2 separate regions of the Homo sapiens genome follow, and region 2 is linked to region 1. Evidence: fine-mapped expression QTL. A gene starts in region 1. The other region holds a variant in brackets. All regions are shown on one strand. Distances are from middle to middle.

Region 1 (12,623 bases):
TATATCAATGGTTTTCCTGTGTCTGATCAAATGAATCAAATAATTTCTCTTATTTAATTTGTTTTACTATGGTGAATTACATTGACAGAGGTGTTTTTTTTTTTTTTTTCTGGAGTTTCTGGTGTCCAGGCTGGAGTGTGCAGGGTGCAATTATAGCTCATTCAGCTTCAAACTCCTAGACAATTGGGCTCCAGTGGTCCTCCTACCTCAGCCTCCTAGGTAGCTGGGATTACAGGGGCGAGCAACTGTGCCATTTGTAAGAGCTTTTTACTGTAAAATTATGCTTGCATTCCTGAAGTAAACCCAATAAAAAAAATATGTACATGTATGTGTGAATATGTGGATTTCTAAATTCTGATTTAATTTAAGATATCTGTTTCAGTAGCCATGAGTGAGGATGAATTCTCATTTATTATTTTGTTTGATTTGATTTCAAGGTTATGCTACCCTTATAGAATGAGCTGTTTGTTCCCATTGTTCTTTATCTGGAAGCATTTGTATAAGTTTGGGATAATCTGTTTCTTAACTTTTTTGGTAGCAATCTCCTGTAAAATCACTGGGGTGTGGTCATTTGTGTGGCAGATTTCATTTTGTTAATGGTCATAAGTCTATGCATAGTTGAGTTCCATTTTGTTAATTATTTCTTCTAGGAAACTGTCATTTATCTATTTCCTAATTCATCAGCATAAAATTATTCATAATATTCTCTTATTTTTCAAGCCACGGCTATGTCTGCTATGTCTTTTTTTCATAATATTGTTTGTGTCTTTCTCTTTGTTCTTAATCTGTCAAAGGTTTTATTATTATTTATTTTTTTATTTTTTGAGATGGAGTCTCACTCTGTCACCCAGGCGGGAGTGCAATGGCACAATCTCGGCTCACTGCAACCTCTGTCTCCTGGGTTCAAGTGATTCTACTGTCTCAGCCTCCCAAGTAGCTGGGATTACAGGCGCCCGCCACCACGTCCAGCTAATTTTTGTATTTTTAGTAGAGACGGGGTTTCACCATGTTGGCCAGGCTGGTCTGGAACTCCTGACCTCAGGTGATCCACCCACCTCGGCCTCCCAAAGTGCTGGGCCTACAGGTGTGAGCCACCACACCTGGCCTGTCAAAGGTTTTACATATTGTTATTTCAGAGAACCAGCTTTTGGTTTTATGAATCCTCTCTTCTGTATTTTGTATTCTATTTTGTCAATTTCTGCTCTTTAGCATTTTTTCTTCACATTTTTCCTTGTCTGCTGAGTTGTTGTTCCTTTATTAACTTCTTGATGAAATGCTGAGCTACTTATTTTCCAGTCTTCTTCTCTAATATAACCAGTTAAGCTTATATATTCTCCTTTAGCTTCTGTTAAAACTCCATCAGTTTCGGGCCAGGCTCTGTGGCTCACCCTGTAATCCCAGCACTTTGGGAGGCTGAGACAGGTGGATCACTTGATGTCAGGAGTTCAAGACCAGCCTGACCAACATGGTGAAACCTTGTCTCTACTAAAAATACAAAAATTAGCTGGGCATGGTGGCCTGCTCCTGTAATCCCAGCTACTTGGGAGGCTGAGGCAGGAGAATCGCTTGAACCCAGGAGGCAGAGGCTGCAGTGAGCCAAGATCCTGCCACTGCACTCCAGCCTGGGCGACAGAGAGAGACCCTGTCTCAAAAAACAAAACAAGATGAAACAAAAAAGACCCAAACAAACCAAAAAGCTCCTCAAGTTTTGGAATGTATTTCCATGACCATTCCATTTTACATTTGTGTCCATCAATTTCCTCTTTTCCATCCTGCTCTCTGCCCCGGGGCTGCCTGTGGGAACTACAAGGGGCTTCTTGCTGTGCCCTCTGTCTTCCATTTGGGTTCAGCCATTGGGGATTCCTGGCAGGAGACAGAAGAGGAGATCGAGGTCAGGGTATCTATGTCCCTGAGCTCCTCTCTGAGATTGCCTCAAGCTGCTTATTTATGTCCCTTGACAGAAGGTCATTGCTTCTTGCATGGTGGTTTGCTCTGCAAAAAAATCTCACTTGGGATTTCTCTAACTTCTCTCTGTTCTCATCTCTTTGGACGTATGGGTTGTGACAGTTCTACTGTTACTAGTATGAGATCCTCCACTGTTCCTTGTGATTTCCACATATCTTACCCAGGCTGGAGTGCAGTGGTGTCATCATGGCTCACTGCAGCCTCGACCACCTGGGCCCAAGTGATCCTCCCGCCTCAGCCTCCAGAGTAGGTGGGACTACAAGCTTGCACCACCGCACCTGGCTAATTAAACTTTTTTTTTCTTTTTTCAGAGATAGGGTCTCCCTATGTTGCCTAGGCTGGTCTCAAGCTCCTGGGCTCAAGTGATCCTCCTGTCTTGGCCTCCCAAAGTGCTGGGATTACAGGCATGAGCCACGACACCCATCCTTCATATTCATATTCTTTTTTTTTTTTTTTTTTTTTTTTTTTGAGACGGAGTCTCACTCTGTTGCCCAGGCTGGAGTGCAGTAGCTCATTCTTGGCTCACTGCAAACTTCACCTCCCGGGCTCAAGCGATTCTCCTGCTTCAGCCACACGAGTAGCTGGGATTACAGGCACGCACCATCACGCCCAGCTAATTTTGTATTTTTAGTAAAGATGGTGTTTCACCATGTTGGTCAGGCGGGTTTGGAGCTCCTGACCTCAGGTGATCCCCAGCCTCGGCCTCCCAAAGTGCTGGGATTACAGGTGTGAGCCACCGCAACTGGTCAGTCCTTCATATTCTTTAATAATCCAAAAAAGCTTTTCAAGGTTGTATTATTCATTACTTCTTTATTTATTTTTCCCAGTTCCCTGGTTATCCATGGAAACTGTCTCATTTTCTTCCCTTCTTTCCCCCCCTCCCCCCGACCATGGAATCTTTTTGGCCACCTGTCTAATTTTCTTTTATCTTATTTTTTAATTTCTAAAAAAATGCCTTCTGGAGTTGTGGATGCCACAGACTTTATCACCTTTTCCTGCACTGTTAATCAAAATCATATCATTAAATCTGAATTATAAGATTTTGGAAATAAACCTGATAAACCTGCAGAGCTCATTACTGGCCTCTCCATCTGATGGAGGTACAGTAATCACTGTGTTTAGTTTTTGTAGTTAATGGTGTTATACCATTTTACGTGGAGCTTGATTTTGCATGGCTGGCTAGTGACTCAGCCTTTAGGATGAAGGGAGACAGAGGTAACACTTTCTTGATTTGGCTTTCTTCCCTTGCCTGTTTTTGCACCTCTGCATCAAATGTGAAGGAATCAGCTGCCGAAATTTATGACTGATCCCTGCCCTTCCTCAGCCCATCTAGAGAACTGCAGCAACCTGGAAGGCAGTGCCAGGACCAATCTGTCATTTAACTTAAAATACATTTTTTTTTTTGAGACGGAGTCTTGCTCTGTCACCCAGGCTGGAGCACAGTGGCATGATCTCGGCTCACTGCAACCTCTGCCTCCCGGGTTCAAGTGATTCTCCTGCCTCAGCCTCCCAAGTAGCTGGGATTACAGGTGCCCGCGCCACCACAGCAGCTAATTTTTGTATTTTTAGTAGAGATGGGGTTTCGCCATGTTGACCAGGCTGGTCTGGAACTCCTGACCTCGGGCGATCCGCCCGCCTCGGCCTCCCAAAGTGCTGGGATTACTGGAGTCTGCTTTCTTTTACATCAATCATATCTTCTTGAAACTACAGCCCGACTGGGTGTGGTGGCTCACGCCTGTAATCCCAACACTTTGGGAGGCCGAGGCGGGTGGATCACTTGAGGTCAGTAGTTTGAGACTAGCCTGCTCAACATGGTGAAACCTCGTCTCTATTAAAAATACAAAAATTAGCCAGGCGTGGTGGCGTGTGCCTGTAATCCCAGCTACTTGGGAGGCTGAGGCAGGAGAATCGCTTGAACCCGGGAGGCGGAGCTTTCAGTAAACTGAGATTGCACCACTGCACTCCAGCCTGGGCGACAGAGCGAGACTCCCTGTCAAACAAAACAAAACAAAAAACTATACCCCTTGATTTGACATGGCTCTTTCTTAATTCTCCCCAATAGCATGTTTACTCTTAGGATGTGTCAATTCTTCAGACAGCTCATCCCATCTTTTATTGGGCCATTTTCCTATGAAGATGCAAAATATGTGGGTGGAGGTTGGAAGGTGGGAGGCTAAAACAAACGGAATCACTTGGAATCTCTTTTAACTTTATGGGCAAGGTGGGGGATTATTGGATTTGAGCGCACCCCACTCATGTAACTGTTTTGCAAAATACTTAAAATTATTCAAGGAACACACGAATATCTTTTTTTTTTTTTTTTTTTTGAGATGGATTCTTGATATATTTCCCAGTCTGGTCTCGAACTCCTTGCCTCAAGCGATTCTCCCACCTCGGCCTTCCAAAGTGCTGGGATTACAGTCATGAGCCACCGCGCCCGGCCAATAATGTTTGTTTAAAAATAAAAAGATAAATAAGAAACTCGAAGTAAGGTCCGCTTTGACCATCGTCCCGATCGTTCTCTTCTCTGGAGGTAACCGTTACCAGCGTTTTGAGCACACTTTTCCAGTCTCCTTTCTATATGTTTTCTTTCCTCTACTGCATATACAGAGTTTCTTTTTATACAAATGACGCCTCTTGGGGTCTCATTAAGACCCTAACGGGAGACGTGATGGCCAATTTATTTAAGGAAAGCAGACTAAACAATCGTTTATGAAAACCTACTGGGTGGCAACCCCGCGCTAAGTGCTTTCTTTGGCATGAAGGGTTCTGGTATTTCACTCGTCGCAATCGGTTAGCTAAGCCATTAGTTTAGAGGCTGGGGGGCGAGTACGGGGAGAGTCGCTTCAAAGCGAGGAGGTAGGGTTTGCATTTTGATGGGACCTGCAGGAAACCTAATAGAGTGCGGTACAACCGCAAAACAGAAAAATGCTGTCATCGGCAGTTGGCTCTGTCAATAAAGCTTGCGAAGCTGAAATGCGAAGAACTATCTGCCGAGACCGAAGCTTCCTTCGGAATCTAGGAATCGACACCGCGCCTGCGAGGCTAGCCTTGGAGCCCGGAGAGGAAGGCACCAGCAATGGCAAAAAGGATGCACTGAGCAGGCAGCAACCGAGCAGCCAACCCGAGAGCTGGGAGCGCGCGGGCCCGGTCGGAAAATGCGCCTGCGCAGACCGCTGGGGACGGGAGGGGCGGGGCTCGAGGGGCGGTCAATGCGCCTGCGCACACCGCACGGCGAAGTGGGGGAGGGCAGTCCGTGTGTGTCTGTGTTGTTGTTCGGCGGCGGCGGCGGCGGTAAGATGGCTGCCCACGGGGGCTCCGCGGCGTCCTCGGCGCTGAAGGGGTTAATTCAACAGTTCACCACCATTACCGGTAAGAGACGCGGTTACCGGAAGGTGGAGAGTGGGGTCCGGAGCGGGCAGCGGGTCTGCCCCGGGCTTCCCCTTACCTTCAGGCATTCCTCCTTCGGGCTTTACCCACAGCTGCCGTCCTCCCTCCTGAGGAAGAGGCGACGACGGCGTCGGGGTCTCCGGGTTCAGGCGGGAGACAGCCCCCCCCCGCTCCCGATACCCTCGTTCTCTGTCTCCTAGTAGCGTGGAGGGAGATCCCCCAACCCCCCGCCAGCCCAGACCTGGGAATGGGCCGAGTCCGTCCGCCCCCGCCGGCCCGGGGACCCGGGGGCGGGAGGAGTAGGGGGCCGCACCCGGGCCACCGCCCTCCTCCTCCTCCTTCATCATCTTCCCTTCTCTGTGCAGCCCTGCGGTGCGGTGCATCTCCTCACCTCCTTTTTTCCTTTCTTCCCCGGCCAGGTCATTCTGCCCCGGTCCCCGGCCTGCCCTTCCCCTTTCTGGGCCCCTCGGAGCCATCGCCGTGGCCCTGGCGGGTTCGGGCCCTCCCGCCTTCACGGCAAGGCCGGTGGGTTCGGCCGTGCCTTTACACTTCACGGGGGACAGGCCGCCAGAAGCGGGGGGTGCTGAGGAGGACCTCAGGGACTGAGGCTTTGAGGGAAGAATGAGGGGGAACCCCCAAGCTGAATAGGGGAGGCCTGGAAGAATCCAGGGTGGCGTTTCCCACCTCCCCATAATAAAATCATAAAGACGGAGACGATGGCGCCGGGGCCTCCTGCTGATAAGATAGGGATGGCGGCAGAAACTTCTTTGAGAGAAAATCTGTTTCTGGGTGTCGGTATCCCCGAAACCCTAGGCCTAGGTTCTCTCCCTTTGGACCCCTGCGAAGGACACACGCAGATCCTCTTACCGCCTGGAGGAAAGGCCCTAAAGCCATTCTATGAATTCTCTCTGTCTTGTTTCTCTCTGATGGTGCTGAACTTTTCTTGCATGAGTTATTAGAGGGCGGAGCAAATGATGAAGTTCTCTGTGGAGTGATTTGAGAGAAGAGTACTCCAATGTGCCTGAGTGTAATTTTGCCGTTCTAGTTTGTCGTTTTGGAAGGAGGTCAGAATGTTAGTTCCCTCTCAACGGATCTATACTTTATCTCGTAATTTGTTAGATGCGGAGAATGTTTCCACTGTTAATGTTCCTAGAGTTTAACGTGCAATATCTGGTTAAGTAAAATTTTATATTGTTTTAACTACTACAGGTTGTATACTAGTTACCGTTTTATATTAAAGCAAGTTTTATTTTTTTGCTTTGCAATGATAACGAGATATTTGACGCATTGTTATCTAGCTTGTGGGCATGGAACATCAGGTCAAAGTAAAGTAAAATTTGCAATAAAATTGGGGTGAGGAGTTGCATGATAACTTCTCTTAATATTTTTGAACTTTGTGATTGGATTATTGAAGATATAAAGGATTGGATTATTATATTAAATATGTAAAGGATTTCCTAATGTCTGACAAATCATTGCTATGGAGAAGATTATTGTGTATATAAGTTAGTGTTGCTGCATTATGCTTATATAGAAAAATCTTTGCAGTGAATCTGATAGAGAAGTGAATATCATTATTAATCCTTTAGATTTCCTAGAGATGGTTTATGATGCCACTTGGGCCTGGCGCGGTGTCTCACGCCTGTAATCCTAGCAGTTTGGGAGACGGAGGCTGGAGATTCACATGGGGCGAGGAGTTGCAGACCAGCCTGGGCAAAACATAGTGAGGCCCCATCTCTACAGAAATAAGAAAATGAGCTGGATGTAGTGGCACCGACATGTAGTCCCAGCTACTGGGGAGGCTGAGGTGGGAGGATTGCTTGAGCCTAGGAGTTCAAGGCTGCGGTGAGTAGATCATACCACTGCGCTCCATCCCTGGCAACAGAGCAAGATCATTTCTCAAAAAGAAAAAAAAAGCCACTTATTATTATTATTATTATTATTATTTTGAGACAGTCTCGCTGTGTTGCCCAGGTTGGAGTGCAGATCTCCCAGGCACGATCTTGGCTCACTGCAACCTCCACCTCCCGGGTTCAAGCGATTCTCCTGTCTCAGCCTCCCGAGTAGCTGGGACTACAAGCGCCTGTCACCAGGCCCGGCTAATTTTTGTATTTTTAGTAGAGGCGGGGTTTCATCATGTTGGCCTGGCTGGTCTTGAACTCCTGTCCTCAAATGATCCACTCACCTCAGCCTCCCAAAGTGCTAGGATTACAGGCGTGAGCCACCGCGCCTGGCCCTAAAAGCCACTTAATTAATTTTCAGTTTCTTATGCTAATTACTACTCTTCCCAAACTCTGATTGGTTTAACGCCACATTACTTCTTCTGTTGCAACATTTTTATTAGGTACACACAAAAACCGAAGTGTGGTGAGTTGAATTGACTCACTTAATTGCTTTAATTCTGTTTCTGTTCGTCTACGTAGCTTGATTGCTGGATCAAGTTGGAGTCCCTCAATCAGTAGACAGTGGTATCTGGAGATCTACAGAGCGAAAATACCTTTGAGTGTTCTTCAAATATTGTGAATTTCTATTGATAATTTTTGGGATTCTTTTTACAAGATAGTGATTAACCGTTAGAAACACATGATTGATTTCTTTTTGCCTTTTTTACATGTCTTAAAATTTTTTTGGGGTTCTCTCCACATACGTTTTAATCGTAGTGTTTATAATTAAAAGGTATTTTATATTTATTTTAGTGACCTTAATAGCTTATGCTCTGATTTCACAAAGGTTTTACTTGGAAGCTCAATATTCTTGTAAAAACAAATGCATCATCAAAAATGTGAGTCCTTACTTTTTAGGCAGGAGCAAAAAAAAGAAAAAGAAAAAATAAAAATAAATGTGAGTCTTATCTTTTTTTGGCATTTAGAAATAGAACGGAAAATTGAAAGATTTTAGAAAAGTCTTATTTCTTACTGAATAGAACAGATCTCTCTCTGATTCAGTGAGTATGAAATAATGACTGATGTTTTTTTTTTTTTTGAGACGGAGTCTCGCTCTGTCACCCAGGCTGGAGTGCAGTGGCGTGATGTTGGCTCACTGCAAGCTCTGCCTCCCAGGTTCACACCATTCTCGTGCCTCAGCCTCCCAAGTAGCTGGGACCACAGGCGCCTGCCACCACGCCTGGCTAATTTTTTGTATTTTTAGTAGAGACGGGGTTTCACCGTGTTATCTGGGATGGTCTCGATCTCCTGACCTCGTGATCCGCCTGCCTCGGCCTCCCAAAGTGCTGGGATTACACGTGTGAGCCACCGCGCCTGGCCTAATGACGGATTTTTGATTTTTTTTTTTTTTTTTTAAGAGATGGAGGTCTCCTCTCTTTGTTGCCCAAGCTGTTCTCCAGTTTCTGGGCTCAGCCATCCTCTTGCCTCAGCCCTCCCAGTAACTGGGGCTACAGGTGCACATCACTGTGCCTGGTTCAGTAATGGCTGATTAAAAAAGATTATTAAAAAGACAATATCATAAAAACTTTTTTTTTTTTTTTTGAGACGGACTGGGTCTCACACTGCCACCCAGACTAGAGTGCAGTGGTGTGATCACGGCTCACTGCAGCCTCTAGGGTAACTTTCTTTATTTTTTGTGGAGATGGGGTCTCACTTTGTTGTGCAGGCTGGTCTTGAACTCCTGGGCTCAAGCAATCCACCCACCTTGGCCTCCCAAAGTGCTGGGATTACAGGCGTGGGACACTGCACCTGGCCGAAATAATTTTGATAAAAGGGAAAAGAACTAATTCTCCTTCTCACAACAGCAATATTTATTTTACATATTATCTTCCACTTCTTGTTTATATGCTTATTTTTACATTGTGGATCATAGTATATACAATTTCTGAGATTTCTTTTTCTTTTTTTTTTTTTAAAGACGGTCTTGTTCTGTCACCCAGGCTGGAGTACAGTGGCACAATTATAGCTTGCTGCATCCTTACCGCCTGGGCTCAAGTGATTCTCCTGCCTCAGCCTCCAGAGCAGTTAAGACTACAGGCATGTGCCACCATGCCCAGCTAAAATACACGGTTCTGAAATTTTCACTTAACATTATGCTACAAACCTTTTTTGCATGGTCAGACTGATAAGCAGGTAGCCAAGAGAAGTGATGACCTTTGAAGTAACCACACTGAGAAGCTGTATACAGTATGGTTTACCATTGATGCTTGCTTTTTGTTTGTTTTTGTTTTTGTTTTTGTTTTCGACAGAATTTCACTCCGTCACCCAGGCTGGAGTGCAGTGGCATGATTTCGGCTCACTGCTGTCTCCGCCTCCTGGGTTCAAGCAGTTCTCCTGCTTCAGCCTCCGCAGTAGCTGGGATTACAGGCTCAAGCCACCATGCCCGTCTGATTTTTGTATTTTTAGTAGAGATGGAGTTTCACCATGTTGGGCAAGCTGGTCTCAAACTGACCTCAAGTGATCTGCCCTCCTCAGCCTCCCAAAGTGCTGGTATTATGGGCGTGAGCCACTGCAACCGGCCCCACTGATGCTTTCTGTGTCATTTAAAGCTACATAAGAAAACCAGTCTTGTTACTTTTATAGTCATTCCACATTTTACAATACTACTGTTTGATCTCCTCTGATATTTATCATACATGGCTTTGAATTACTGTTGAAAACTCAGAAGTCATATCAATTCTCAAAACATGAAGGAAAAATATGCAGCTGGATCTATTCTGAAAGAGCAATTTTTAAAAATGTTTTGAAGCCAGGTGCGGTGGCTCACGCCTGTAATCCCAGGCACTTTGGGAGGCCAAGGCGGGTGGATCACCGGAGGTCAGGAGCTTCAGACCAGTCTGGCCAACCTGGTGAAACCCTGTCTCTCCGAAAAATACAAAAATTAGCTGAGCATGGTGGTGCACGCCTGTAGTCCCAGCTACCCAGGAGGCTGAGGCAGGAGAATCTCGTGAACCCAGGAGACGGAGGTTGCAGTGAGCCGAGATCCAGCCACTGCACTCCAGCCTGGGCGACAGAGCGAGACTCTGTCTCCAATTTTAGTATATGTGCTGCTGAAGCGAGCACAGAGCGAGACCCTGTCTCAAAAAAAGAAAAAGTAAATAAAAGTAAAAATGTTTTGAGCCATGGCAGTATTCCATTAGCACCAACTTTGGGCTGACATCCACTACACATATACACTGGTGCACATGTGTAATCAGAATAATTCATGGAGTGAAGGTGAGGGATACATAGACACTATAGAACAGGTGAAAAATAAGCTAGCAGTCTAAGGACAAATGTGAGGGCATAGAAAGTGGAGGCTAAGAAGAGTACAAGAGGTTACTGGTACGGAAATTCATAGAGCTTTGTGCATAGCGGCAATAACATACTTGAGAAAATTATAGAACCTCAGTTGTAGAAGAGACCTTAATCTTTCAGATGGTTGATGAGTGCATATTTATTATAAAAATTAGGGGCTGTCATGTTTGTGGTATTTAACTTTATGGCCAATTTCCATTCATGTTCTTTTTTTTTTTTTTGAGACAGAGTCTCACTCTGTGGCCCAGGCTGGAGTGCAAAGGTACGATCTTGGCTCACTGCAGCCTCCACCTCCCGGGTTCAAGCGATTCTCCTGTCTCAGCCTCCTGAGTAGCTGGGATTACAGGCATGCGCCACCACGCCCGGCTCATTTTGTATTTTTAGTAGAGACGGGGTTTCTCCATTTTGGTCAGGCTGGTCTCGAACTCCCGACCTCAGGTGATCCTCCTGCTTCGACCTCCCAAAGTGCTGGGATTACCGGTGTGAACCACCGCGCCTGGCCTCATTCATATGCTTTTGTACAGAACATTTCCTTTCTCTTGGGTTAATATTAAACTATGATTAAGTTCTCTGTGTCTGGAAAGGTGGTCACAGTATTATAGATGTTAAGAGAAAACTTCAGGAATTTTAAGAATAGTTTCAATAGGGAATACATTTCAGAATTTCTTTTTTTTTTTTTTTTTGAGACGAAGTCTTATCCTGTCACCCAGGCTGGAGTGCAGTGCTGTGATCTTGGCTCATTGCAACCTCCGCCTCCCCGGTTCAAGTGATTCTCCTGCCTCAGCCTCCTGAGCAGCTGGGACCACAGATGCGCGTCACGACACCCAGCTAAATTTTTTGTATTTTTAATGGAGATGGGGTTTCATCTTGTTGGCGAGGCTGGTCTCAAACTCTTGACCTCAGGTGATCCACCCACCTCAGCCTCCCAAAGCGCTGGGATTACAGGCTTGAGCCACCATGCCTGGCTGAAGTTTCAGAAATTTAAGGGAGGTAATTTTGAGTTGCGAATGGAATCTTACTAGTAGATTCATTTATTGGTAGACTGCTACGTGCCAGGCATGGTTCACATCTTAAGGATACAACTGTGAGCAAGGCGTGGTGTCTGTCCTCAGAAAGCTTAAAGGTTAACAGGAATAGAGACACACGAATAGGTATTAGAATACAGTGAGAGAATGGTAAGGAGCTAATACTGGAGCACAAAAGAGGGAGGTCAAGAAAACCTTCCCAGAATAAATACTTTTTTATCTAAAATCTGGAAGATGTTTCTTGCAGGAGAAACATGCAGAGACTTGGAGGGGAATTGGGCAGACATGTATACAGACAGAGATGAGAGAGGGGAGACAATCGGTTTAGGGAATTGATAATTCCAAATGAGTAAAGCACAGCTAGTGCAATAAATGGACCTCAAGAGATAAATGGGAGATTGGGTTGGGCCTTATAAGCCATGTTAAAAAAAATCTTGTCTTTATTCTGAGAATAGTGGGGAGTCAAGGGTTTTAATTAGAGGAGTGAGACTGGGCACTGTGGCTCACACCTATAATTCCCGCACTTTGGGAGGCTGAGGTGGGAGGCCTGGAGCTTGAGATCAGCCTAGGCAACATAGTGAGACCCCATCTCTACAAAATGTATTAAAATTTTATTTATTAAAAAAGGAGTTACATCTGATTTGACCTTTTTTTTTTTTTTAAAGAAAGAGTTACTTGGCTATAATGGAGAAGAGATAGGCACAGAGATCAGTAGAAGGCTGTTATATTAACCCAAGAAAGATAGTGGTGTCCTGAAAAAAGTTAGTGGCGGAGAAGTGGACTCCAAAAGGTATGGGAAGAAATCAGAGTCAAAATGAAGTTTAGGATTCTGTTTTGGACACCTAGGTATGTAACAGTGCTATTTATGAAGGTATGGAATAGCAGAAAGGTGTGGGGAGAAGATGGTTAGCTCAGTTTTGGATAAGTTAAGGTGCTGCTAATAGGACTTCCAGATGGAGCTGTTGAAGCAGATGAATATTTGGGTCTAGAAAGAAGAGTGAGA
Region 2 (12,623 bases), 83 kb after region 1:
TGCCAACGTGTTCATCAGTGAGAGGGTGTGGTTCTTTCCGATATGTTCAGCACGTGCATATTCATTTATGAGAAACCAAAGTAACTTCTTCAACTCGGGTTACTGTGGGATGATTAAGTAGATATAAAGTGATTTAAAAGACAGCATGGTACTTTCACTCAGCTTAACATGCAGCTGGGATGTCTACAATACAAGATGTGGTGGGTTTTATTTTATTTTATTTTGAGGCAGGAGTGTAATTATCTTAGGGTTGATATAAAGGCCCATGGGAAGAGTTACGGATTGTACATGGGAAGAATCCATAAGGAGTATTGCCTTGCTCAAGAATTTAATCCGCTGACAGTATGCTTCTTCCAGTTTGCCTTACTTCCTCTGCAAGTTTCTTTGCTCCTTAGGGCAGAGGTTTTATTGAATAGATTAAATGAGGTCAGTAAGATTAGTTAAAAATAGTCATTCCTTGTGGGTGTTGGACACAGCTTGAAAGGAGTGTTTAAAAAAAAAAAGCTAGGGAGGAAAAGAACAAGAAAGATAGACTTCGAGAGTGATAAGAGAAAAATACAGGGAGATGGAATGGAAACTACCAGGAAGGCCGGGCGCGGTGGCTCATGCCTGTAATCCCAACACTTTGGGAGGCGGAGGTGGGCAGATCACCTAAGGTCAGGAGATCGAGGCCAGCCTGAGCAACATGGTGAAACCCCGTCTCTACTAAAAATACAAAAATTACCTGGGTGTGGTGGCGTGCACCTGTAATCCCAGCTACTCAGAGGCTGAGGCAGGGGAATGGCTTGAACCTGGGAGGCAGAGGTTGCAGTGAGCCAAGATCGCACCATTACACTCCAGCCTGGGCGACAAAGCGACACTCCATCTCAAATTTAAAAAAAAAAAAGAAGAAGAAGAAGAAAACTAGTGGGAAAAAAGTGAGAGGAATACTTTTTTGAAATTGGTATCGGAAGGAACTGGAGAAGAGAAAACAACAGTGCCAAATGAGAAAAGAACAGGAAACTTAATACTAATTGGCATGCACCAGATACTTTTGTGTACATTTGCCTCTTCAATCTCCCGAAGAATCGTACAAAATGTATACTTTCTTCCCATGTTAAGAAAACAGGTATAGAGAACTTATTCAGGACTCATAGCTAGTGAGTGGCAAATCAGAATTGGAATCCAGAGTCCATGCTGTGGTCTCCTTCAGCAAGAGAATCAAGCTACCCAGATGATTCTCTTCTCATTGTTTGGCTTTGTAAAGTGTCACTTAGTTTTGTTCCCATAAATATAGAGGAAGTAGTTGGGTTAAAGTTGTGGGATTTGCACTATGCCTATACATTTTTATTTATGCCATTATTTTGAGAGGCTGATTATTGCTTTTTTAAAATGATGCACTGGTGAAGATGTGAAAGTAAAATTGCCACGTGGCATTATTTGCCAAGAATAAATGAAAAGGGTAAAAAAACAATTTTTTCTTTTTTTAAACATTTTTCAGAAAAGATACAATTACCTTTTTTAATAGGTGAGCGCCACCACGCCCGGCTAATTTTTGCATTTTTAGTAGAGACAGGGTTTCACCATGTTGGCCAGGATGGTCTCGATCTCTTGATCTCGTGTTCCGCCCACCTCGGCCTCCTAAAGTGCTGGGATTACAGGCATGAGCCACTGCGCCCGATCTACAATTCTGTTTTCTGTGTCCCATCCATACCAGATTATTGAACCCTCTGTGTGTATGTTTTTAAATCTTGTATATAATTCTACTTCCTTGACTTACAAGTCAACAATTAGCTATTGAGTTCTTTATAGAAGTTGGAAGTATTTTGAAATCTGAGATCTAATTCCTGGCCAGGTGTGGTGGCTCATGCCTGTAATCCCAATATTTTGGGAGGCCGAGGTGGGTGGATCACCTGAGGTTGGGAGTTCGAGATCAGCCTGGCCAACATGGTGAAACCCCATCTCTACTGAAAAATACAAAAATTAGCCAGGCATGGTGGCTGTCTGTAATCCCAGCTAATGGGGAGGCTGAGGCACAAGAATCTCTTGAACCTGGGAGGCGGAGGTTGCAGTGAGCCGAGATCACACCACTGCACTCCATCCTGGGCAATGGAGCGAGACTCTGTCTCAAAAAATAATAAATAAGATATGATTCCTGCCTGTTTTATCCAGTTAGAGAGACACACTACACATGAAATAATTGGAGAGCATGTAAATGTTTACCTATTAGTTCAAACTTAGAAAAAGGGAAGAATATGTTTTAGTTAGCAAAGTCTTAAACAAGACTGAAGTGGCAAGCACTGTAGCTCACGTTTTCTTTTGACTCACCTTTTTCTTTAGCTCCACCTTTTGTAACTTCTAGATTTGGGGCATGAAGTTCTGCCACTAAGGCATAACCAGTACCCAAGTAGGAAAGGATTATTGATCCCTGGAGTAAAGATTCCTAGCTTGCGGGGATCTCACTATTGATCCCCCGGAGTAAAGATTCCTAGCTCGCAGGAATCTTACTTGCACACTTAGGGAAAATACCAGAGGGAGCCACTAGCAACCGAAAAATGAAGGAAAGATTTAATTTCTCTACCCAGGTACAAATCCAATGCATAGTATAGTATATGTTATATGCAGAAAGGGCACTGGAGGTGTGAGAGCCCTTTGGGTAACAGCTCTGCTAGTTGTTACCTTCACACTTCTCTTTCTTCTTAATCTCTGGTTTCTCGTCTGAAAAATGAGATAATTGGACTAGATTAATAGTTCTCAGCCTTTTCTAGAACAACAAATTAGATTATCTCTGAAGTCCTTTTCCAAAATTTCATGCTTCCAGTCTCTCCCCGTGATTGCGTATTATCCCTAGGCTAATTAAAAGTGTGCTGGTTAATCAGTTTCTTTACTTTTTTTTTCTCTCTTTTTTTTATTCTGTGTTCAGGTATCATTTGACCAACAACTTGCTCTTAATCTTACTGCGATGACTGAAATCTCCAAAGAGGAGAGTATAGTAGTTATAGGTCTAGTAATAATAATCTTGTAAACAATTCATTATTTTTTAAAACTTAATGCTGTGTGCCTAATCAGTGTTGAGTATGACTAAAATGTAAATGAGAACCAAATATGACACTAACGCTGGCACTAAATTTTATTTTTACTTGTGTACTTAAAGTACTTTACTGGCCTGTTGGGAAATTGATTTGTATAAGATTCACACCTGGTTTTGGCAGAAACAGCTTTTTAAAGATACAATTAGGCTGACTTAAAAATGTTTTTTATTCCACAGAATGTATCTTTATTATGTCATTCTTACCGTCTCTCTGCCTTTTTTGACCATCATGTAACTACGCAGTAGTAAATCATGGGGTGCAGGCTGATGAATTAGTAGTCTTTGTAAAACTAAAATGTAATGAGCATAGGAAGAGACAGCTCTTCTGGTGAACATGGCAGTTTTCCGGTAATACCAGCCTTGATGAATAGGCTAAAGACAGCTGTGTACTATGGACATTCAACTTCACTGGATTGCCTGGCTTAGCTTTTCAGTTATTGTCTTGCCGTGAAACATGGTGTTGCACTGTACACATTTTAGAATAGTGGCAAGAATGTTCTTTAGAACTGCAGATAACCCAACAGAGAATACCATACCAATATATCGGTTTCTCCTGTTACATAGAGATTTGGTATTTCAGTGATGGTTATGGTTTTTGACTCACCTGTGTGTCAGTCCTGCTAGAGAGACAGTATAGAATCAAGAATTTCTTGATGTCTTTTTAAAAATAGAGATTATAATGGCCTTGCTAGTTGTCCTGTGAAGTGACAGACCCTTAATTAGAAATCTTTTAATCCTGCTTTCCATTTTACTTCTCCACCATTTATTTTTAACATTCATTCTCTGAAAATAGTTATGATTTTTAGTGTAATTGGCTATGTTTAAGAAATTCCATTTCAAAGTCTTAATATGTAACAATCTTCATTTTTTATAAAATTGAAGGACATTTTTGAGGCAAACTTACTTTTATAGCTCATTTTCTCCCTAGTTAAGGAGAATTCTCTGGTTTCATATAGAGAATGGCTAGCTCTGTGATACCCCACCCTCTTTGTGGCCTACCAGTTGCTGTTGTGTTGCTTAAAATTGCAGATATTCTCATAAACATGATGATTTTTGGCACAGGCCTTTCTTTGCTATTGATTTCAAAATAAAGTTGGGCAATCCAATTTGAACTACTTTAATAAACATAATTTAGCATTCCTGTAATGAGAAAGTATTTTCAAAAGATAACCAGATTTATTTCTAGGATTAGAGATGGCAAATACCAATGATAGTATTTTTCCCAAGAGCAATCACAGATTAATCTATAAATATGAGAAGTCGCATTATTGTACTTAATTCTTTGGCAACAAACAGCAAGTTTTTATTGTTTAATTGTATTTCCTCTCTAGAGATCACAATACTCTGGGTATTTTATATCCCTTCTAAAGGTCATTTGGGTTTTCAAATGGGAAGAATAGTCAAGCTAAGCTGGACTAAACCTAAGTAATATTTTTTCTCATCAAAAGAAGTTATTAATCTAACTGGGTTAGCATGAGTCATTCATTTTTTAGACATGATAAATGGGAAACATATCAAATCATTAGATAAATTCTGACCTGGAATTGAATTCCCCCTTTCTTAAAATCTTTTTAATTTGCTTTTTTCATAGACTCAGTATGGAACTCTTAACTGATAAGGGAGAGATTCTTGATCTGGAACCGTTCCCTGCCATTCTCCTTTTTTCTCTCTATCTAGGTAGCTGGTTCCATAGTGCCCGTCACGAGGGTCCATTTCAGTTTGATGACATTAGACTGCTTACACTCAGCTGGATGCCTTGCTGTTTGCAGCAACATGATTTTACAGTATGCTTTTCTCAAAGCTTTGCATTCTTAATGGAGATATCAAATGGTGTAATTCCAAATATAAATATGTTTATGACACTAATCATATGCTTTTAACAATAACTTTTTGATAACTTATTGCCCTGTAAGTTAAACCTTACACGGAGTGACTGTTGCCATCAGAAAATCCCCTTTCACCTGCTAGAGAGAGTGAAAGTAGTGCGTGGCCTCCACTTTTCAGTTAACGAGTAGCAAGCTTCTAGTAGGGGCTGCTTATCTGACCCATGTGGGGTCTTGGGCCTTGTTACTTTCCTGGGTTC[G/A]TCCCTTCAGCTGGAAAGGCTGTTGAAAACACTTGCCAGGAAACAGTAAAGCTGTGAGAGAATCTTCTAGTCTTAGATATAGAGAAATGAGTACCAGTTGATGCTAACACGATACTTAGACTTTGAGGGGCTTCCATCCAAGCTTTGGCATGAATCTGTTAGACACGGTTTTCTTCACTCCTCTGATAATCTTTTTTTCCAGAATGGTTTTTTGTTGTTGTTGTTGTTAACAAATTCTAAACATCCAGTGTTACTTTTTGTTTTGTTTGTTTTGTTTTGTTTTGTTTTGTTTTGTTTGCCCTTCAGGAAAGTCCTTTTTCGAGTAGGTATTGATTGTTCCCTGGAAACTCTCAGCAGTGTCTGTGCAGGCTCTGTGCATGCTTTGTATGAGTTCGGCTTGAACAATGCATTTGAAGTCACCTGGGATGTCCAGTTCTGGCATGTCTTCATTGATTGTGTTTTTAAACATGTTTCATGTTTCATGTCATTTTCCAAACCTCACTTTACATCTTACTCAGAGAAGTTAATCAAGGAATGAAATTTCTAGGGGGATAGGGATGATGAGGGTGGGTTGGGGGCTTGAGTGAAGTCAACTTGGGGTATTTGCTTTAAAGTGTTTTCTAAAGCAGTTCCTAACAGTATTTAGAGATTCCCTGGGATGTTTGTGGCTCAACTTATTCTGGACAAAGTGTGTGTGGGGGTGGTCTTACTGAGATTTGCATTCTTAATGCAGGACAGGCTCTAAATTTCATCTGTACTCTAAATTTGTGATTGAATCCAAGAAGATAACAGAGACAGTGCTCCTGTTGTAATGTTTCTGGCAAGTGCTCCCTAAAATGCACATCGAATTCTGTTTTCTGGGCCTTTTCTCCAATGGTGCTAGGAGATACCGTTGATTTCTGCAGCTCTTCTCAGTGGTGGGAAGAAGTCTTTGGGATTGTTGAGCAAGGGGCAGCTGGACCATCCACTAAATTTTTTTGTTCAAGACACATTAGAGACCCTCCTGTATATCTAGTAAGTCATAATAAAGGTGCTTGGGAAAGCCTTAAATTTGAAGACACATGGAGGCGGTAGAAAATTAAACTTGTAAGAGGAGAAAAACATGCCATTAGGTAACGCAGAGTTGTAACTACTGGCTAAGACTCAATGGAACTTCCACTTGCTCTAAAACCAGGGAAATCTTAGATAACTGGGTGTGATCTACCTATAGATCTACCTAGTCTATAGGTAATAATTTCCAGAAGGAGGATCTTGCTGTCAGTTGGGGATCCTCTGGTTTGGTCTGTACCAAATTGTGAATACTCTTGCTGTGTTGTACCCAGTTGCTTTATATTAATACTGCAACTTGAAACGGGGAGGGTGGGGGGACAATGGGGTGGGGGAGGGAAGGGAGTGGGACGATAAGTCTTTTGAAGACATCAGCTCACTGTGCTGAGAGAGGGACCAAACTCAAGGAAACCTCTGATCTATACATTCAACTGCTGCATTTTTTTATAAATACATGTAAATGTCCTGTTGTAATATTTGATCTTGGAAATAAAAACAAAAACTTTTCAGTATTAGTTTTTTTTGTGTTGTTGTTTTTACAAGATAAGACTCTGGATATTACTTTCAGTAATACAATTGAGATTCCAAAAGCTTGCCCCCTCACGTTCTCATTTAGGTCAGTTACTATTGATTGACAAAGGTTACTTTGTAGTCCCGTTGTTATGTGTAACGTTTGCTAGCCTTTTTTCTGCTCTTTGTGGTATGTCAAACATTCATGGTAAACACTCTGTAAATATTAGTCCAGTTGTTACAGAAACATTGGGTAAGCTAGGCTTGTTAGGTAAGTATGATTCTGTGTTTGACATACTTGGGCGAATATTCAGTGTCTGTTCTTTCAGACCAGCAGTAATTACTAATGGTTAATTAAGGACTTAGCTTAATTGAAGGAAAGATAATTACTAAATTAATGGGCAAAAAGGAGATACGATTATATGGTATGACAGAAATTGTTATTGCTGCTGGATGCAGTGGCTCATGCATGTAATCCCAGCCCTTTGGGAGGCTGAGATGGGCGGATCACCTGAGGTCAGGAGTTCGAGACCAGCCTGGCCAACATGGTGAAACCCCGTCTCTACTAAAAATACAAACATTAGCTGGGTGTGGTGGCGGCCGCCTGTAATCCCAGCTACTTGGGAGGCTGAGACAGGAGAATCGCTTGAACCCAGGAGGCAGAGGTTGCAGTGAGCCGAGATCGTGCCACTGCACTGCAGCCTGGGCGACAAGAGTGAAACTCTGTCTCAAAAAAAAAAAAAAGAAAAAAGCCGGGCGTGGTGGCAGTGCCTATAATCCCATCTACTCGGGAGGCTGAGGCAGGAGACTTGCTTGAACCTGGGAAGTGGAGGGTGCAGTGAGCCGAGATAGCATCCAGCCTGGGTGACAGAGTGACTCCATCTCAAAAAAAAAAAAAAAAAAAAAAAAAAAGGGACTGCTGCTTAGCTCACAGTTCTACAGTGATGGGTTTGTGCCCCCCCTTTTCTTGTGGAACCATTTCTCATCCCCATGCTCCAGCCTCATGTGCCAAATAATAGGGATGTATGTGATGGGGAGCAAAACAGATACAGCCTCTGCCCTCAAGGAACTTACTTTCTAGTTGGAAACAGACGATAAACATACATGGAAAAACAGATCTGATTCTAATAGAATGAAAAAAAAAAAATAGAAAAGGAGCCAGTAGAGAATTCTTTATTTTTTTAATTTTGAGACAGAGTCTCGCTCTGTTGCCCAGGCTGGAGTGCAGTGATTTGATCACAGCTCACTGGAAGCTCCGCCTCCCAGGTTCAAGCAATTCTCCTGCCTCAGCCTCCCGAGTAGCTGGGACTACAGGTGCCCGCCACCACGCCCGGCTAATTTTTGTGTTTTTAGTAGAGACGGGGTTTCACCATGTTGGCCAGGCTGGTCTCGAATTCCTGACCTCAAGTGATTCACCTGCCTCGGCCTCCCACAGTGCTGGGATCACAGATGTGAGCCACTGCGCCCTGCCTGGTGTTTCTTCTCACTGCCTGCACCTCCTTGATTGGGTCTTTATGGTGGTGATCCCCAGGACCTGGCCCTCTAACTCTCCCTCTGTGATCTCATTCTGATAGTACCAACCGCCATGTATAATGCCAATGATTTCTCACATCTCCAACTCCAGCCCGTCTCTCCTCCAAGCTTCAGACTCACATGTCCGACTTTTTACACTGCGCCTATAGTTGGAAGTATCACACTTACATCTAAGATGACGCCTCCCCACCCAGACCTGCAGTGACACCACTACCTATGAACCTGCCAGAAACTTAAGTCATTTTCTTTTGCTTATTCCCCCATCTCTAATCCAACAGCAAGTCCTTTAACTTCTGCCTCCAAAATGCATAAAAGGTAACCCTACTTTTCAGTCTATTGCCATTACTCTGGTCCAAGTGACCTGCTTTTTATCGTGACCACTGCAGTAGTCTCTGCTCTTACTCTCTTCCGACCCATTCTCCGCATACTGGCTTCTCCTTCCACTCAGAATGCCCAAGCTCCTTGCTTCATGCCACCCCCTTTGCCCCCTGCCTGCCAGCTGACTGGCCTTCTCTCAAACCCCAACATCAAACACCTTCCTGCTCCACAGCCGAGGCATGTCTTCTGCTTGAGTTCTCCTCGTCTTAGCACGGATCACTTTCTTTTATCCTTTAGGTCTCAGCCTAAAAGTAAACTCCACAACGTTCTATTTAAAGGAGAAATCTCAGCCGGGCGCAGTGGCTCACGCCTGTAATCCCAGCACCTTGGGAGGCCAAGGTGGGCAGATCACTTGAGCTCAGGAGTTCTAGACCAGCCCGGCCAATATGGTGAAACCCCGCCTCTACTAAAAACACAAAAATTAGCCGGGTGTGGTGGCACGGTTGCTTGTAATTCCAGGTACTCGGGAGGCTGAGGCAGGAGAATTGCTTGAACCCGGGAGGTGGAGGTTGCAGTGAGCCAAGATGGTGACACTGGACTCCAGACTCCAGCCTGAGGGACAAGAGCAAAACTCTGTCTCAAAAAAAAGAAACAAAAAAACACCAGAGTGGGGTGTCAAGGGAGCCAAGAGTAAGAATGTTCAAGAAGGATCCTGTGGCTAACTATGTCTAGAGTCAAGTAAAGAGGACAGTGTAGCGTTCATCAGAGACACGAAATCACTGGAGACCAAGAACAGTTTCAGTGCAATGTTGGAGGCAGAAATCTACTTTGGGTGGGTGGAAGTTTACGATTTTTATATACTAATGAGAAAACCCTAACTTCCTCTTCAGTGGTCTGGTATAAAAGGCAGCTCTTTCAATATCTTCCCTTTTTTTCTCCCTCCAATTAAGGGAATGTGCTCTCTTGTCAGCTTTCAGTTGAGTTTAGAGCCCACCCACAGGAGGCTGATTAGTCCTGTCGCTCTCATCTGGGGAACACTAGAAAACAGCTGGCCTGGTTGTCTGGCTGTATCATCTTCTCTTCTGCCAGTGAATTCTATTTCATCAACTTCCTCTATTTCTTGCTCAAATACCACCTCCAGATCCCCAAATATACCCCAGAATGGAACATCTGTCTAGCCTGTTCTCCTAAGTCTTTATTTTTTGTTTTTTTTATTTGAGACGGAGTCTCACTCTTTCTCCCAGGCTGGAGTGCAGTGGTGTGATCTCGGCTCACTGCAACCTCCGCCTCCCGGGTTCATCACGCCATTCTCCGGCCTGAGCCTCCCGAGTAGCTGGGACTACAGGCACGTGCCACCACGCCCGGCTAATTTTTTGTATTTTTAGTAGAGATGGGGTTTCACCGTGTTAGCCAGGATGGTCTCGATCTCCTGACCTCGTGATCCACCTGCCTCCGCCTCCAAAGTGCTGGGATTACAGGCGTGAGCCACCGCGCCAGGACTTTTTTTGTTTGTTTTTGTTTTTTGTTTTAAACAGAGTCTCACTCTGTTGCCGAGACTGGAGTGCAGTGGCGCGATCTCGGCTCACCGCAACCTCCGCCTCTCGTACTCAAGCAGTCCTCCCACCTCAGCCTCCCCAGTAGCTGGGACTACGGTTGTGCACACCACGCCCAGCTAATTTTTGTATCTTTAGTAAAGACGGTTTCACCATGTTGGTCATGCTGGTCTCAAATTCCTGGCCTTGAAACCGCCTTTGCAAAATGATGACTGAGACAGTGAAAGAGATCCAACCTAACCGACTCCATCTTGCGTCTAACCTCCAAGCTGCCCTTGTTCATTCCTGGGCGTAGGCTGAACTAACTTGGGGGGAAACTTAATTTATAGTTTAAAACAAAGACGGTAACAGCCCTTTCCCAAAGCAGACCTCCTTCTTGCCGGGGGACTAGACTAACATTAGTCACAAGATTAGAAATGATGGTTTAGGAGCCATGCAGCTGGAGGCTACAAGATTCTGACCCTCCCTACACTGCTCCTAAGATCAGCGCTTGAGATACTTTGCAGACCCTGCACTTGATGGATCAGCTGGCACCACCCAGGTGGATAAACTGGCTCATCTGATCTTGTGGCCCCGACCCAGGAACTGACTCAGCGCAAGAAGACAGCTGACTCCCTGTGATTCCATCCCTGATCAATCAGCACTCCCGGCTCACTGGCTCTCCACACCCACCAAGCTGTCCTTAAAAACTCTGCTCCCCGAATGCTGGGAGAGACTGATTTGAGTAATAATAAAACTGCGGTCTCCCGCACAGCCGGCTGTGCGTGAATTACTCTTTCTCTATGGCAATTCCCCTGTCATGACGAATCGGCTCTGTCTAGACAGCGGGCAAGTGAACCCCTTGGGCGGTTACAGCCTCAAGTGATCCACCGGCCTCTGCCTCCCGAAGTGCTGGGATTACAGGTGTGGGTCACTGGCACCTGGCCGTCTCCCAAATCTTTCAGCCTCAGGAAGCCTTTTGTGGCATGACTGGTTTTCTCAGCCCAGGCCCTGTTCGTCATTTATGTCCTCAGACTCCCATTTGCTCCTCCCTAGGAGCATCACCGACAAAGTAACAGCAAGTAGCTCCATCTCCAGTAGAGCCACACTCCGCGGTTATTAACACGTCTCAAAGAGGTGAAGCTTCAGTGCTTTCATGGCAGCGACCGTGCCTCTGTTGCCCTAGGAGGCTCGCCACATGGAAATGAAGAGATAGTCCCAACGCTAGCCTTACGAGACCCGTTTATCTCAAGTACATGATTTCTTAAAGAAGTGTCTTGTTCAGCCGGGCGCGGCGGCTCACGCCTGTAATCCCAGCACTTTGGGAGGCCGAGGCGGGCGGATCACGAGGTCAGGAGATCGAGAACATCCTGGCCAACACGGTGAAACCCCGTCTTTACTAAAAATACAAAAATTAGCCGGTTGTGGTGGCGGGCGCTGTAGTCCCAGCTACTCGGGAGGCTGAGGCAGGAGAATGGCGTGAACCCGGGAGGTGGAGCTTGCAGTGAGCCGAGATCGCGCCACTGCACTCCAGCCTGGGCGACAGAGCGAGACTCCGTCTCAAAAAAAAAAAAAAAAGAAAGAAGTGTCTTGTCCATAAGATAATCATTGAATTAATCATCACAAGTTTACCCGAAGGAGCAAAAACCCACAGCTGCCATCACCAGCCCCACACTAAGTTTGACACTTTAAGGGATTAAAAACAAATTCCAGCACTTTCCTTTGTCCCACAAGCAACATTTTAATGATATCTACATAAGCCATTGGGTTGGACATGGAGATATCATCTAAAAATCTGAGTGCTAGGCCAGGCGTGGTGGCTCACGCCTGTAATCCTAGCACTTTGGGAGGCCGAGGAAGGCGGAACACAAGGTCAGGAGTTCGAGAGCAGCCTGGCCAACATAGTGAAACCCTGTCTCTACTAAAAATTAGAAAATTAAAAAATTAAATTAGCTGGGTGTGGCAGTGTGAGCCTGTAATCCCAGCTACTGGGGAGGCTGAGGCAGGAGAATCGAGTGAATCCAGGAGGCAGAGGTTTCAGTGAGCCAAGACTGTGCCATTGCACTCCAGCCCGGGTGACAGTACGAGACCCCATATCGAGAGAAAAAAAAAATCTGAGTGATATACGGCAATCAGCCATTCAGTTATTCTGATTGCCTAAATATGAGATGTTCTAACAGACACTGCATGCGAAATCTCTTTTGCTGGCCAGGTGCAGTGGATCACGCCTGTAATCCCAGCACTTTGGTAGGCCAAGGCGGGTGGATCACTTGAGGTCAGGAGTTCGAGACCAGCCTGGCCAACATGGCAAAACCCCGTCTCTACTAAAAATACAAAAATTAGCCAGGCATGGTGGTGGGCACCTGTAATCCCAGCTACTCAGGAGGCTGAGGCAGGAGAATCGCTTAGAACCTGGGGGTGGAGGTTGCAGTGAGCCAAGATTGCGCCACTGCACTCCAGCCTGGGCAATAGAGCAAGATTCCGTCTCAAAAAAAAAAAAAAAAAAAAAAAAACAGAAATTCTTATATAG

Evidence for each region. PIP is the estimated chance that this variant, and not a neighbour inherited with it, causes the effect.
Region 2: its variant is fine-mapped to the expression of UBXN7 in whole blood (TOPMed, PIP 0.93).

The regions. Positions count from the first base shown.
Region 1 is chr3:196,425,041-196,437,663 of GRCh38, reverse strand. It overlaps UBXN7 (UBX domain protein 7), which reads left to right and starts at 5,237. Exons shown (of 11, transcript NM_015562.2): 1 at 5,237-5,337. The coding sequence starts at 5,265. UBXN7-AS1 (UBXN7 antisense RNA 1) reads right to left here and starts at 6,279. Exons shown (of 2, transcript NR_046745.1): 1 at 6,223-6,279; 2 at 4,630-5,462. RefSeq lists enhancers at 4,920-4,999, 4,932-5,705, 6,080-6,129, 5,706-6,480 and silencers at 5,040-5,289, 5,310-5,369.
Region 2 is chr3:196,341,751-196,354,373 of GRCh38, reverse strand. It overlaps UBXN7 (UBX domain protein 7), which reads left to right. Exons shown (of 11, transcript NM_015562.2): 11 at 1-6,712. Among named protein-coding and RNA genes, the nearest start is that of TM4SF19-DYNLT2B, 9.6 kb to the right of the region's middle. The variant G/A (reference allele first, on the strand shown) is at 5,154.